Linked DNA regions of Homo sapiens: region 1 is linked to region 2. Evidence: fine-mapped expression QTL. Tissue or cell type: esophagus mucosa. Region 2 holds a variant in brackets; the other region holds the start of a gene. All regions are shown on one strand. Distances are from middle to middle.

Region 1 (5,780 bases), 140 kb before region 2:
TTTTTATATGAGGAATATGAGCTTCCTCTAAATTATCAGGCCCAAAAAAAGGCATGAGAAAGAGACAGCAGTCACATCTCACTTCCTCCCTCTTGCTGAATAATCATCTTTTGAAGCTGCTTGCTATGTGGACTCTAGACTGACTGCCCCCCAAGTAGCTATAAATTAACCTAACAATACTGCATGCTGCACAACATAACTCATACCCTATCATTCAACAATGTATAGCCATCACTAATCAATGTTATTTCTGTAAACCAATGAGAATTCCTGACAAACAACTTTTTATCTGCCCCATGCCTAGTCCCCTTTTTTACCTTTAAAAACCTGCTTGTAACAAAGGCTTAATGAAGCTCATATCCCAGGTTACTTGCATGTGAGTCTTCTGGGCAGCTGTCTTCATTTTGGTTCAAATGTAAACTCTCCACTTTTATTAATTTTGCCTCCGTTTCTTCTTTTAGATAAACTGTAATCAAATCAATCTCCAGCCTCTCTCCTCTCTCTGGAGGTTGAGAGGTGGGGCTAAAAGTTTCAGCCCTCTAATCACATGGTTGGTTTCTCTGATAACCAGCTCCCATCTTCCAAAAGCCACTTCATTAGTGGCATAAACTCAGGTATGGTTAAAAGGGGCTTATGATGAATAACAAAAGATGTCACTATCATTCAAGAAGTTACAAGTGTTTTACAAATGCCCATCAATGATAGCCTGGATAAAGAAAATGTGGTACATATACACCATGGACTACTATGCAACCATAAAAAGGAATGAGATCATGTCCTTTGCAGGGACACAGATGGCGCTGAAAGCCATTATCCTTGGCAAACTAACACAGGAACAGAAAACCAAACACTGCATGTTCTCACTTATAGGTGGGAGCTGAACAATGAGAACACATGGACACAGGGAGGGGTACAACACACACTGGGGTCTGTCCATGGGACAGGGGGAAGGGAGAGCACCAGGATAAGTAGCCAATGCATGCAGGGCTTAATACCTAGGTGATGAGTTGATAGGTGCAGCAAACCACCACGGCACACGTTTACCTATATAACAAACCTGCACGTCCTGCACATGTATCCTGGAACTTTAAATTAAATTAAAATACACATACACAAATGAAAAACATCAGGATAGCAATTAGCTGGGGTGGAGGGATAAGAAAGAAGAGGAAACTCTCAGAAAATTGCAACAATATTGGTAATATTCTATTTCTTAAGTGGAGTAATGGGTTCACGGGTTTCTTTTCATAATTCTGCTTTGTAACTTGAGCATATTTAAATTTATATATACACTATATATATTATGTATATGTAGCAAACATTTTATAAATACAAATGATATTATCTTTATAAAATGCCTTAATGAAAACCTAAAGAAAAAAGTTACAAGGGTTTTAGAAGCTCTATGCAGAGACCACATATATATTTCTTAAGTCACAGGTGGCTTTTAGTATACTCAGTGTTGTGCAACCATCCCTATTATCCAATTCCAGGACACTTTTACCATCTCAAAAAGAAACCTCAAACCCATCAGAAGTCACTCCCTATTCTCCCCACCTCAACATCACATAGGTGACTCTATCAATTCACCTACTCTGGACATTGCAAATATAAATGGAACTATACAATATGTGGCCTCATGTGTCTAACTTCTTTCCCTTAGCATGTTTTCAAGGTTCTTTCCTCAACAAAACTCCATTAGTTTGTCTAAAGCTTTTCTTTTAACAGATCTATAAATCTGTTGTAATATTGTCTTTTGACAGACAACTTGTGAAGGATTTGGAGTAGAATTTGTGATAAATACATGGAATCTTAATTAACTGTTAACAGAAAAATCAAACTCTGTAAATTACTTAAAGAGGTTTATTCAGGGCCAATGAGTGACCACAGCCCCAGGAAAATACAAACCCAAAAAGCCTTAAGTGTTCCCGAGGCAGTCAGATTATAGTTTGGTTTTATACATTTCAGGGAGCCAGGGGTTACAGGCAAAGACATAAATCAATGTGTGGAAGGTATACACTGGTTTGGCTCCAAAAGACAGGATGTCTTGATGTGGGGGGTTTACAAGTTATATGTGGACTCAAATACATAGATATATACACGATATATGATTGATTGATAGATAGATAGATAGATCTCTTGGTAGGGGTAGATAGGGTCTCCCTATGTTGCCCAGGCTAGTCTTGAACTCTTGGCCTCAAGTGATCCTCCCACCTCAGCCAGCTTGACCAAGAGATTTTTTAATTTGCAACTGGTTAAAAGAGTGAGGCTCTGTGTAAAATTTGGAGTCAGCAGAAAAGAATGTTTAAGATAGTATGCCAGAATCAGCCACAATACACTGGGTCAAAAAAGACCTCTTCAGCAAGATTGATGGTCTGCAAGCTTGACTTAACCCTTGCCTTGCACGGCCTTAGGTCTTGTTTATAATTTGGTATCTTACTACCACAAAGTCTGTTAGTCTTATGATCTCTACTTTAACAAGGGGTGTTCAACCTCCCTTTCCAGAATGGCTGGGAACTCAGTTTTTAAGGTTTCTCTGGGGTCTCCTTGGCTAAGAGGAGGTCCGTTCAGTGCTTGGGGGGCTTACAATTTTATTTTTAGTTTACAAACACAAACAAACGTAATTATTTATTTTTATGTTTTTTGTTTTGTTTTTTGCGACAGAGTCTTGCTCTGTCAACCAGGCTGAGTGCAGTGGCAAGATCGCTGCTCACTGCAACCTCCACCTCCCGGATTCAAGCGATTCTCATGCCTCAGCCTCCCTAGTAGCTGGGACTACAGGTGCGCCCTACCACGCCCGGCTAATTTTTTTGTATTTTTAGTAGAGACGGGGTTTCGCCATGTTGGCCAAGCTGGTCTCGAACTCCTGAACTCAAGTGATCCGCCCACCGAGGCCTGGGATTACAGGCGTGAGCCACCGTGCGTAGCCAAGTAATTATTAACTCCACAGAAAATAAAAGGCTGTGCAGGAAGTAAAAATTAATCAAGTCCATATATAGACCTCAGATACATTTCGTTTGGGCTATCCTGCACTTTACTTTGTAATTAAACACCACTATTTAAAAATCAGGAAAATTGCACATAAAAATCCAGCTGCAAGTGGGCGCTCTGGAGTTCCCCAGTCTCCACTCACTCGTCCTCCCAGCCCCCACAGGCCTCAACGTCGCCTATCCCACTCCACCAGCCCAGTCTTCCACCGCCCTAGGAACTCTCCTACGCCTACGCAAGCAGGGAGGGATAGGGTGACAGCACCGACAACAAAGGGTCGTCTCCCGCACTCCGTATGAGGATGGCGTACTGGTCGGGGGGCAACCGAAGCCTTTCTTCCTAGGTTCTTTATCTTTTCTAAGTTTCCCATGACCTATCGCTCCGCTTGAGCCCTCAGCAAAGATGTCACCCGCCGAAAGGTGTGGCCGGAAGCTGGAGGCGTGGCTTCCGGACGTGCGGGGCGAGGCTCGTCTCGTTTCCGCCGGCGCTCCGAGTGACGTAGGGAAGCGCGCCGCGCACCTCATGGTTCCGGGGACAGTTAGGGCGGCGGATGGAGGTCAGCGGTGGTGCTCGCTGCGTAGGTCTTGTGGCACGGGGAGAAGGGGCGGCTGATCGTGGGTTTCGAGTGCACAACACAGGCGTGGCTGGGAAGGTCCTGGGATGCGGTGGAACTGGGGAGCAGGCTGGGACGCGGTGGGATGCCGTGGGCCTGGCCGTCTGCTCGTTCCGTGCTGGCTTGCCAGTGCGCACGCTTCCTCTCTAGCCCGCGCGGCCAGGCCTGGAAGACGCCGCCCCTGTTGACCGTCCATGACCCCAGCGAGCCAGTTTTCGTGACTTAGTGCAAGTTGTTTTCTCTCTGCATTTTAGAACTAAAGTTTTGGATTGCTGTTTGCCTAAACTCAAGTCTGGCTCCTGGGCTTCCGTTTACTCGGCTAAACTGCTCTTAGGGCTCTTAAAAAATTGGAAAGGCGGCCGGGCGCGGTGGCTCACTCCGGTAATCCCAGCACTTTGGGAGGCCGAGACGGGTGGATCACTTGAGGTCATGGTGAAACCCTGTCTCTACTAAAAATACAAAAATTAGCCAGGTGTGGTGGCGCGGGCCTGTAGTCCCAGCTATTTGGGAGGCTGAGGCAGGAGAATCGCTTGAATCCGGGAGGCTGAGGTTGCAGTGACTCGAGATCGCAGCATTGCACTCCAGTCTGGGCGACAGAGCGAGACTCCGTCTCAAAAAAATAAGTCGGAAAGATTTCTACACTGTGCTTAGGCTCAGGAAGTGGTAGATGTTGCGTTTGGGCAAATACTCCGACTCTCTGATCTCTCTCTCTTTTTTTTTTTCTTTAAGTGGAGTTAGACTAAGCTTTTTACAGCTGCTTTAATCCCCTCATATAAAAAGAAAATGTGCTGGCCATATACCAAGTTCCAGGAAGTGGAGAAAGATCAAACGTACATTCTGCTTTGGCAGAAATGAGGCCTAGGTGAACGTTTTATCTTGCCCTTGTCGCATGTCTTCCCTGGATCATGTAATCACCGTAGGGAGCTAGACTAGCTGATAGAATTTTTTTTCTTTTTTTTTTTTTTTGTGACAGAGTCTCGCTCTGCCACCCAGGCTGGAGTGCAGTGGCGCGATCTCGGCTCACTTCAAGCTCTGCCTCACCCTCCCTAGTAGCTGGGACTACAGGTGCCCGCCACCACGCCCGGCTAATTTTTTTGTATTTTTAGTAGAGACGGTGTTTCACCGTGTTAGCCAGGATGGTCTCGATCTCCTGACCTCGTGATCTGCCCGCCTCAGCCTCCCAAAGTACTGGGATTACAGGCGTGAGCCACTGCGCCTGGCCGATAGAATTGTTAAAAGCAACATCAAGGCTATATGTAACACATTGCTGGAGATGGCAACATTGAGTTTGGCCTTGGAAGGATGAGATGTATTTTAAAGGGTCTTATAGGGGGAGGAGGAGACCCAGATAACAAGCCCTGTAAGGTGAAGTGGAAGTGCAAGGCCTGTTTAAAATGGGGCCTTGTGTTGCTGGGAGGCAGAAAAAGCTAAGACTGAGAAAATCATTCTGGGCCATGTTATGAAGTGCTTCTTATTATTGGTTCAGAATTTTTGCTGTTAGAAATTTGGTGGGGGGGTTTTAGTAGGCTAGTGATGTAATCTACCTTGGTTTCGAGAGGCTCACACCTATGTCTACAGTGTTAAAATATATCCACAGAGGCTTTGGGAATGTGAATTTTTTTTTTTTTTTTTTTTTGAGATGGAGTCTCTCACCCAGGCTGGAGTCCAGTGGTGCAATCTCAGCTCACTGCAATCTCCGCCTCTCAGGTTCAAGCAATTCTTGTGCCTTAGCCTCCCAAGTAGCTGGGATTACAGGCGTGCACCATGATGCCCAGCTAATTTTTATATTTTTAGTAAAGATGGGGTTTCACCATGTTGGCCAGGCTGGTCTCAAACTCCTGACCTCAAGTGATCCACCCGCCTAGGCCTCCCAAAGTGCTGGGATTACAGGCGTGAGCCACCACGCCTGGCCAAGCCCGTAATTTTTAATCCTGGTTACCCTTGAAATAAAAAAATAAAAAAAAATTAATGCTGTCTAGGTCGTGTCTGCAGAGATGCCATCATTTAGGAGGCCTTGGGCAGGACCTGGGAATCTGAATTATTGAACCACATCCTAGGTGATTTCAAATTACAAGCAGGATGGAAACCCTCCCACCCAGGCTGTAATGTTCCTGAGTTTTGATATTTGATGGCATTCTGTACTGAAACAAAAATCCTGTGAGACTTTTGCTTTAGAAAA
Region 2 (7,852 bases):
TTCAGTCCTGAAGAGGTGGAGTCTGTGCATCGCATCCTGGCTGCCATATTGCACCTGGTGAGCCTGGCTCAGAAGCCTGGGAGGGCTACTTCCCCACAAGGGTTTCCTGGCTGGGAAGCACCCAGGGATGAGGAGGAGACTGGCTGGAGATGCCCCAGCAATGTGCTAGGCTGACTGCCTCTCCTGCAGAAGCTGAGCTGCTCGAGTGATGAGCTCAGTTGATACATGGTCCAGACCCCATTCTTAGGGCCAGGTCAGCCAGGCGCAGTAAAAGCTGAGCATCATGCAGACTGCCTCTTAGTGCAGTCATGAGCTGTGTGGCTTTGGTTGCATTTACTCAGTGCCTCTTGGCCTCAGTTCTCTCTAAGCGGCATGAGGAGTAAGTAGTGCAGGGCTCCGCTGGCTGTGGGAGGATGCGATGGGGTCATTCACATGTCATTTGGACTCGAGGCCTCGAGGCCTTGGCAGAGACTCTGGTGTGCCCATGCCCCCTTCCCCCAGTCTCTGGCTGTGTCTGTGCCCATGGTGAGCAGCTGACCATGCTGGTCTGAGAAGGAGCTGTACTCTACCGCATCCATGTCCCCTGCTTTCCTTCCTCCTTCTTGTCCAAAGTTGTCCAGGCTCTTTTGAGACATGGAGCCCGGACTGTTCATGGTTTTCCCATCACCAGGGAAACATCGAGTTTGTGGAGACGGAGGAGGGTGGGCTGCAGAAGGAGGGCCTGGCAGTGGCCGAGGAGGCACTGGTGGACCATGTGGCTGAGCTGACGGCCACACCCCGGGACCTCGTGCTCCGCTCCCTGCTGGCTCGCACAGTTGCCTCGGGAGGCAGGGAACTCATAGAGAAGGGCCACACTGCAGCTGAGGCCAGCTATGCCCGGGATGCCTGTGCCAAGGTACTTTGGGGGCAGGCACAGGGAGGGAAGCCCAGGAGGCCTTCATGGGGGAGGCCAGGCCAGAGGCAGCAGGAAGCAGGGTGTTCCTATCCCCCAGGCAGTGTACCAGCGGCTGTTTGAGTGGGTGGTGAACAGGATCAACAGTGTCATGGAACCCCGGGGCCGGGATCCTCGGCGTGATGGCAAGGACACAGTCATTGGCGTGCTGGACATCTATGGCTTCGAGGTGTTTCCCGTCAACAGGTGGGTGGCTGGCCAGCCACATCTCCACCTCTGACACCCAGCAGCTTTGCCCACTTAGTTCTGGAAAGCTCGGCTGGGGCTGGGCAGCAGGAATGTTGGGGTTTCTCCCGGCTGGTCCCTGGGCCCAAGGCTCATGCCTCCCAAACCTGCCTCACCTGCACCCTCTGACCATTGATGTCCTGATGGAAGGCAGAATTACGGGGCATGAGTAATTCCTGGTTGTGACTCCCAAGTCCACTCCAGAACGTGCATGCAGGAGGTGTGGGTGGGGTAAAGGAGTCCAGGGCAGGGATGCATAAGCCACAGGGAAGCCACACAGGGTGCTGGCACCAGAACCCTCAATGAACATTAGCAGAGATGTTCAGGGGAGCAGCCACCCATTACCATGCACTCCACAAGCAGCGACCTCCCCTCTGAAAGGCCCACCCCACCCCCAGTTTCGAGCAGTTCTGCATCAACTACTGCAACGAGAAGCTGCAGCAGCTATTCATCCAGCTCATCCTGAAGCAGGAACAGGAAGAGTACGAGCGCGAGGGCATCACCTGGCAGAGCGTGAGCACTGTGGCCTGGAGGGAGGCCAGGCAGTGGGGTGTGGAGGGGCCTCAGCCCATGGGGAGGGGCCCGGGCTGGCCTGACAGGTGGCTGAGTGTGGGGCGGAGGAGGGGAGGTGGCCTGAAAGACCTTGGGAGCTTCCTTGCTGGCTGCCTTTGCCCCAGGTTGAGTATTTCAACAACGCCACCATTGTGGATCTGGTGGAGCGGCCCCACCGTGGCATCCTGGCCGTGCTGGACGAGGCCTGCAGCTCTGCTGGCACCATCACTGACCGAATCTTCCTGCAGACCCTGGACATGCACCACCGCCATCACCTACACTACACCAGCCGCCAGGTGCCCCCGGCTGTCCCAGTGCCACCACAGTGGGCTGGTGGGACCTGCCCCACAGGCACCATGCTGCCCATGCCTCGTGGGGCCTGGTTGGGGACCCAGCTTTGGTGCCATTGTCGTCACTGTGGCAACCTTCTCTGCCCTGGAGGTGGGGAGGCAGGGCTATCCCTTCATACAGACCCTCCACATACCTTTTGTGCCTTGACCTCAGCCTGTCCCCATAGCTCTGCCCCACAGACAAGACCATGGAGTTTGGCCGAGACTTCCGGATCAAGCACTATGCAGGGGACGTCACGTAAGGGCCCCCTCCCACCCACATCCCTGGCTTTCCCACAGGCACCATGGCATGTGTCATGGGGCAGGAGCGCTTCAGGGGAGTGGCTCGGAGACAGGTGTTATGGCCACTTCTGCCACCCCCACCCCTTTAAGACACTGAAACATGCCGGACAGCAGATTCACAAGTGAAGAGCAGGAAACAGGGTTTGAGGATAGTGGTTAACCATGGCTGCATTCTTCTGGGAGCCTTTAAAAAATACCCACGTCTCATGTCTGGGCCCAACCCTATACCAGCATCTGTGGGGTGGGGGGCTTCAGGCTGGTGATGTGGGGGTGGGGAGGGAGTGGAAGGTGCAGGGGGGCCAAGATTCTGCATTTCTAACAAGCTCCCAGGTGAGGCCTCGCTACCATACTTGGACCACGCTCCCAGTGCCAAAGCCCAGGTGTCTTCAGGGGTTGTCATGATGGCTATTAACTTATGTGTTGCTTGCCGCATCCCAAAACGATTTAAGGTGACTCACATCAAGGTATAAGTGTTTCATGAGAACTTCTCAAGGAGAGGGAATAGAATAGATGATGACAACAAAGCAGCCCAATATCATCTACCTTTATCTGTTCGCAAAATCTACACCCATGAGGTCGCTCATGCCTGTAACCCCAGCACTTTGGGAGGCCAAAGTGGGTGGATCACCTGAGGCCAAGAGTTCGAGACCAGCCTGGCCAACATGGCAAAACCTCATCTGTACTAAAAATATAAAAATTATCCGGGCACGATGACGCGTGCCTGTAATGCCAGTTGCTCGGGAGGCTGAGGCACAAGAACTGCTTGAACCTGGGAGGTAGAGGTTGTGGCGAACTGAGATCGCACCACTGCACTCCAGCCTGGGCAAGAGAGTGAGACTATTTCTCAAAAAAAAAAAAAAAAAATCCATTCCCTGAGCCTTCATAGGTGCTGCAGTTGGAGCCAAGATTTGGCACTGACCTTTCTAGCAGTCCAAGAACTAGACAGTGATTCTGAGGCTCTCAGTGCCCACAGATCAAAATAGGCCCAGGACTCAGGAGTTCCTAGTCATAGTTGTAGTCGCTGATGTTTATCAAAATTCAGTAGGCACTGTTCTGAGCAACTGATGTACACTGAAGCACAGAGAGGTTGAGTGGCTTAGGCAAAGTCACACAGCATGCATGTGGTAGAAGCAGGACTCGGTGCTAGGACATTTGGCTTCAGAGCTGGGGGCTTAACCACTCGATTCATCTTCCAGGAGAGAAATGTCTCCTGAGGGAGGGAGTCTTACATGACGAAAGAGAAAGCAGGTGTGAGGGGGAAGGAGGAGAGGAGCCAAGGCAGAGGGAGGAAGAGAGACTGACCTATGGGAACAGAGGCAGATGGGAAGAGAGTGGGGGCTGCTGGGGTCATTAGCACTCTGGCCTGGCAGCCCCCGCCCCTGCTC[C/G]CTCACCAGCCCTGGCTTCTGGTAGGTACTCCGTGGAAGGCTTCATCGACAAGAACAGAGATTTCCTCTTCCAGGACTTCAAGCGGCTGCTGTACAACAGGTGAGCACGGCTTGCTGGGCACCATAGGGAGGGCCAGGGCCCTGGGGCCCCAGAGACTCTGGGGTCAGGCATTGACTAGCGTCAGGACGTGGGTGGGTGGGGCTGCTCTCCCAGAGGATGGCTGGGAATTCGGCCTGTGTCTGCAGCACGGACCCCACTCTACGGGCCATGTGGCCGGACGGGCAGCAGGACATCACAGAGGTGACCAAGCGCCCCCTGACGGCTGGCACACTCTTCAAGAACTCCATGGTGGCCCTGGTGGAGAACCTTGCCTCCAAGGTATGTTCCACCCCTCTCCCACTCTGGCTGTTCCGGATCCTTCTCTCTGTGCCCTCGGTGCCAAGTAGGGTCCCAACCACCTCTGTACATCATAGTGGTGGGGAGAGGGTTCTTGTCCTGTCTGTATGAGCCACATCTGCTCCAGCAGTGGACCCCACCCACTGCACAGGTGAGATGTGGGGCCTCAGGGGCTGGGCTGAGGCTTGATCAATCATGGGGAACCCAGGCTTCTCCTCGCCCCATTGTCTCTTGAACAGGGAGGGGTTTGGGGAGACCCTGCTGAGAGGCTGGCTTGGCCCAGCCCAGCTCTTGGCAAAAACCCAGGATTCTTCTGGCAGGTGGGGCCAGAGAGACAGGAAACTGGCACAAGCTTTCTTGGGGAGCTTTGGGTCAAAAGTCAGAAGAGGAACAGGTGAAGGGTCAGGGAGAGGACATGTTAGGGTGAGCTTAACTACAGAACATCCAGAGATGTCAGCCCCTTTTGGAAGGAGAGAAGGAAGGCAGATGGGGCGAGGCCTGCTCCTGCCCCTGCCACGCCCACCTCCCCACCCCCCGACCAGGGGCTGGAACCTGGCTCTGAACCTGGCCTTGCTGGCCTCTGCCCAGCACTTAGGGCTTCCAGGGCCCTTGTTCTGCTGATTTCCCTTCTTTGTTCCCAACTCTTCTCCTGGCCTGGGACCTTGAGGGGTTAGGAAGCCCCTGGTGTGGGGCAGGGTGCACAGTGCTGCTGGCGCAGACCCTCTCCAAGTCCCCTCTGTCCCTGCAGGAGCCCTTCTACGTCCGCTGCATCAAGCCCAATGAGGACAAGGTAGCTGGGAAGCTGGATGAGAACCACTGTCGCCACCAGGTCGCATACCTGGGGCTGCTGGAGAATGTGAGGGTCCGCAGGGCTGGCTTCGCTTCCCGCCAGCCCTACTCTCGATTCCTGCTCAGGTACTGGCACCTGACACCCATCACTCCATGGGCCATAGTCCCTGTGTGGAGTCCAAGGGGTAGGAGCAGAGGGTCCCCAAACAGCACGTCGCAAACATCGATACAAGCAGGAACCAGCACGCTGCTGGCCTCAAGACACCAAAATATCTGGGAAGACATGTGTGTGAGCACATGCATGTGGGGACATACAGGTGGGAACATGGGTATGAGGGCTGTGTGAGGACATGTATGTGAGGACATGTGTATGGGAAGACATATGTGCACAGGTGTCATAAGTGCTCCAGGAACACACTCTGTATCCCTGCCATCTCCCCAGGTGTGGGGTGGGCAGGGTGGGCTCCATCATCTCTCCCCCAGGCCTGGGCCACACTGCCCTGTCCTGTGGTGACAGGTACAAGATGACCTGTGAATACACATGGCCCAACCACCTGCTGGGCTCCGACAAGGCAGCCGTGAGCGCTCTCCTGGAGCAGCACGGGCTGCAGGGGGACGTGGCCTTTGGCCACAGCAAGCTGTTCATCCGCTCACCCCGGACACTGGTCACACTGGAGCAGAGCCGAGCCCGCCTCATCCCCATCATTGTGCTGCTATTGCAGAAGGTGAGGTGGGCGGGGCAGGAAGACATCCACTATGGAGGTGGGGAAAGCTTGTGTCCCAGGGGCCACAAACACACTTGTAAGTTTCACAGGAGTCTCTGCTTGATGGAGACAGGCCAGGGAGTGCTCAATAAATGCTCAGGGCCAGGTTTGGGTCTAAGGGTTAGGGCCTGATTGAATTTGACTGCGTATCCCATCCCACCTGGCCCACCCAGGCATGGCGGGGCACCTTGGCGAGGTGGCGCTGCCGGAGGCTGAGGGCTATCTACACCATCATGCGCTGGTTCCGGAGACACAAGGTGCGGGCTCACCTGGCTGAGCTGCAGCGGCGATTCCAGGCTGCAAGGCAGCCGCCACTCTACGGGCGTGACCTTGTGTGGCCGCTGCCCCCTGCTGTGCTGCAGCCCTTCCAGGACACCTGCCACGCACTCTTCTGCAGGTACTACTCTCAGCCCACCACACATTCCATTCAGCTGGCATCCACTGAATACCTTAACCCATCATCCCGGGCCTGCAGTGCCTGGATGGGAGATACACCAGCCCCCTTGATAGGTGGGAAGGTGGATGCTATGCCACATTAGCTGACTGCTCATGTCCCACAGTTGGTGCAGAGCCCTGACCATCTTGGGTACTGTGGTGGGCATTCAAGGTCCAGGGCTGCAGCCTGCAGGGGGAGGCCCATTAGGGCTGGGAAGTAAGGGGATTCTGCATCTGAGCGGGGTCTTGAGGGCTGAGTAGGAGTTCTCCAGAAGGAGGGGCACAGAGCATGCTCAGAACAGGAGGACACTGGGCGACTGCTGGTCCCTGGGTCACCTTCCAGGAACAAGCGTTAGGCACAAGGGGCCAAGGCCAGAGAGGCCGGCAGAGGTTGGGACATGAAAGGCAGGCAGCACCAGGCTGAGGGCTCAGCTTCCTCTGTGGAGAGGGGGCTCAGGGAGCACATGAACACATGGCCAGCATCTGTCTGACTACATGCCCTCTCCCAGGTGGCGGGCCCGGCAGCTGGTGAAGAACATCCCCCCTTCAGACATGCCCCAGATCAAGGCCAAGGTGGCCGCCATGGGGGCCCTGCAAGGGCTTCGTCAGGACTGGGGCTGCCGACGGGCCTGGGCCCGAGACTACCTGTCCTCTGTAAGTGCCAGGCGAGTCCAGGGCTGCCAGGGGGAAGTGGGCTGCCAAAGAGGGCTCTCGGCTAATGCTGTGACCAGGTCCCCTCAGATGTCCTCTCCCAGGCCTGGGGTTGTCTGTCCTGGTGGCCCTGTACCTCAGCCCCCACCAGAGCTCTGCAAGGTCTCATCCTGGGCTTCAGGAGCAGTGGCCTTCGGGGGTGGGTGTGGATGACAGGAGGGCCAGGCTCAGATGCAGCCTAGAAGTCAACACAAGAGGGCTCTGTGCCCTCAGGAAATCCAGGGCTGCTCAGCTCACGCACAAGTCTGTGTGACTCAGTTTCCCGAGATGAAGGATAGCTATGCTGATTCACAGACAGCTGCTATCAATTGAGTCTGGTCCCATGACTCAATCCCAAGCAGCGCCCCCTCCCCTCCATCTGTCCTCAGGCCACTGACAATCCCACAGCATCAAGCCTGTTTGCTCAGCGACTAAAGACACTTCAGGACAAAGATGGCTTCGGGGCTGTGCTCTTTTCAAGCCATGTCCGCAAGGTTAGACAAGGGACAAGGATGGCTTCAGGGCTGTGCTCTTTTTCTAGCCACGTCTGCAAGGTTAGAAGCTGGTGCAGAGTTTTGGGGGGGCACTTGGGAGAAAATGGAGGCAACCCCAGCCCAGGCCCAGCTGCTCCTGACACTCCCAAAACTGTCGCCAGCGGGGAGGGGAGGCAGTAGGGACTGCCGAAGCCTGGGGCCCTGGTGGGTGACAGGGCAGCACCAGCCTGGGTCCAGCCACCTCTCCCACAGGTGAACCGCTTCCACAAGATCCGGAACCGGGCCCTCCTGCTCACAGACCAGCACCTCTACAAGCTGGACCCTGACCGGCAGTACCGGGTGATGCGGGCCGTGCCCCTTGAGGCGGTGAGCAATGTGGGTGGGGAGTAGGGTGCAGCATCTGTGAGGGGCACTGCTGGGCTGCTCAGAGTCCTGCCTCAGTCTTCTCTCCCCTGTTTACCTGAGATGGCCCAGACCATCCTAAAACTCAGCGATGGTGGCACCCGTGCTGAAAATCCTGCAGTGGCTTCCCACGCC

Evidence for each region. PIP is the estimated chance that this variant, and not a neighbour inherited with it, causes the effect.
Region 1: TBRG4 starts here. The variant in region 2 is fine-mapped to the expression of TBRG4 in esophagus mucosa (GTEx, PIP above 0.99). The same link has a PIP of 0.9 or more in cerebellar hemisphere.

What each region holds. Positions count from the first base shown.
Region 1 is chr7:45,109,428-45,115,207 of GRCh38, reverse strand. It overlaps TBRG4 (transforming growth factor beta regulator 4), which reads left to right and starts at 3,511. Exons shown (of 11, transcript NM_004749.4): 1 at 3,511-3,565. RefSeq lists enhancers at 2,984-3,739, 3,103-3,812.
Region 2 is chr7:44,963,878-44,971,729 of GRCh38, reverse strand. It overlaps MYO1G (myosin IG), which reads left to right. Exons shown (of 22, transcript NM_033054.3): 7 at 1-57; 8 at 671-895; 9 at 993-1,138; 10 at 1,576-1,690; 11 at 1,855-2,025; 12 at 2,247-2,317; 13 at 3,772-3,846; 14 at 3,993-4,125; 15 at 4,892-5,058; 16 at 5,450-5,657; 17 at 5,870-6,093; 18 at 6,641-6,785; 19 at 7,211-7,315; 20 at 7,568-7,681. Among named protein-coding and RNA genes, the nearest start is that of MYO1G, 11 kb to the left of the region's middle. RefSeq lists an enhancer at 5,573-5,672. The variant C/G (reference allele first, on the strand shown) is at 3,747.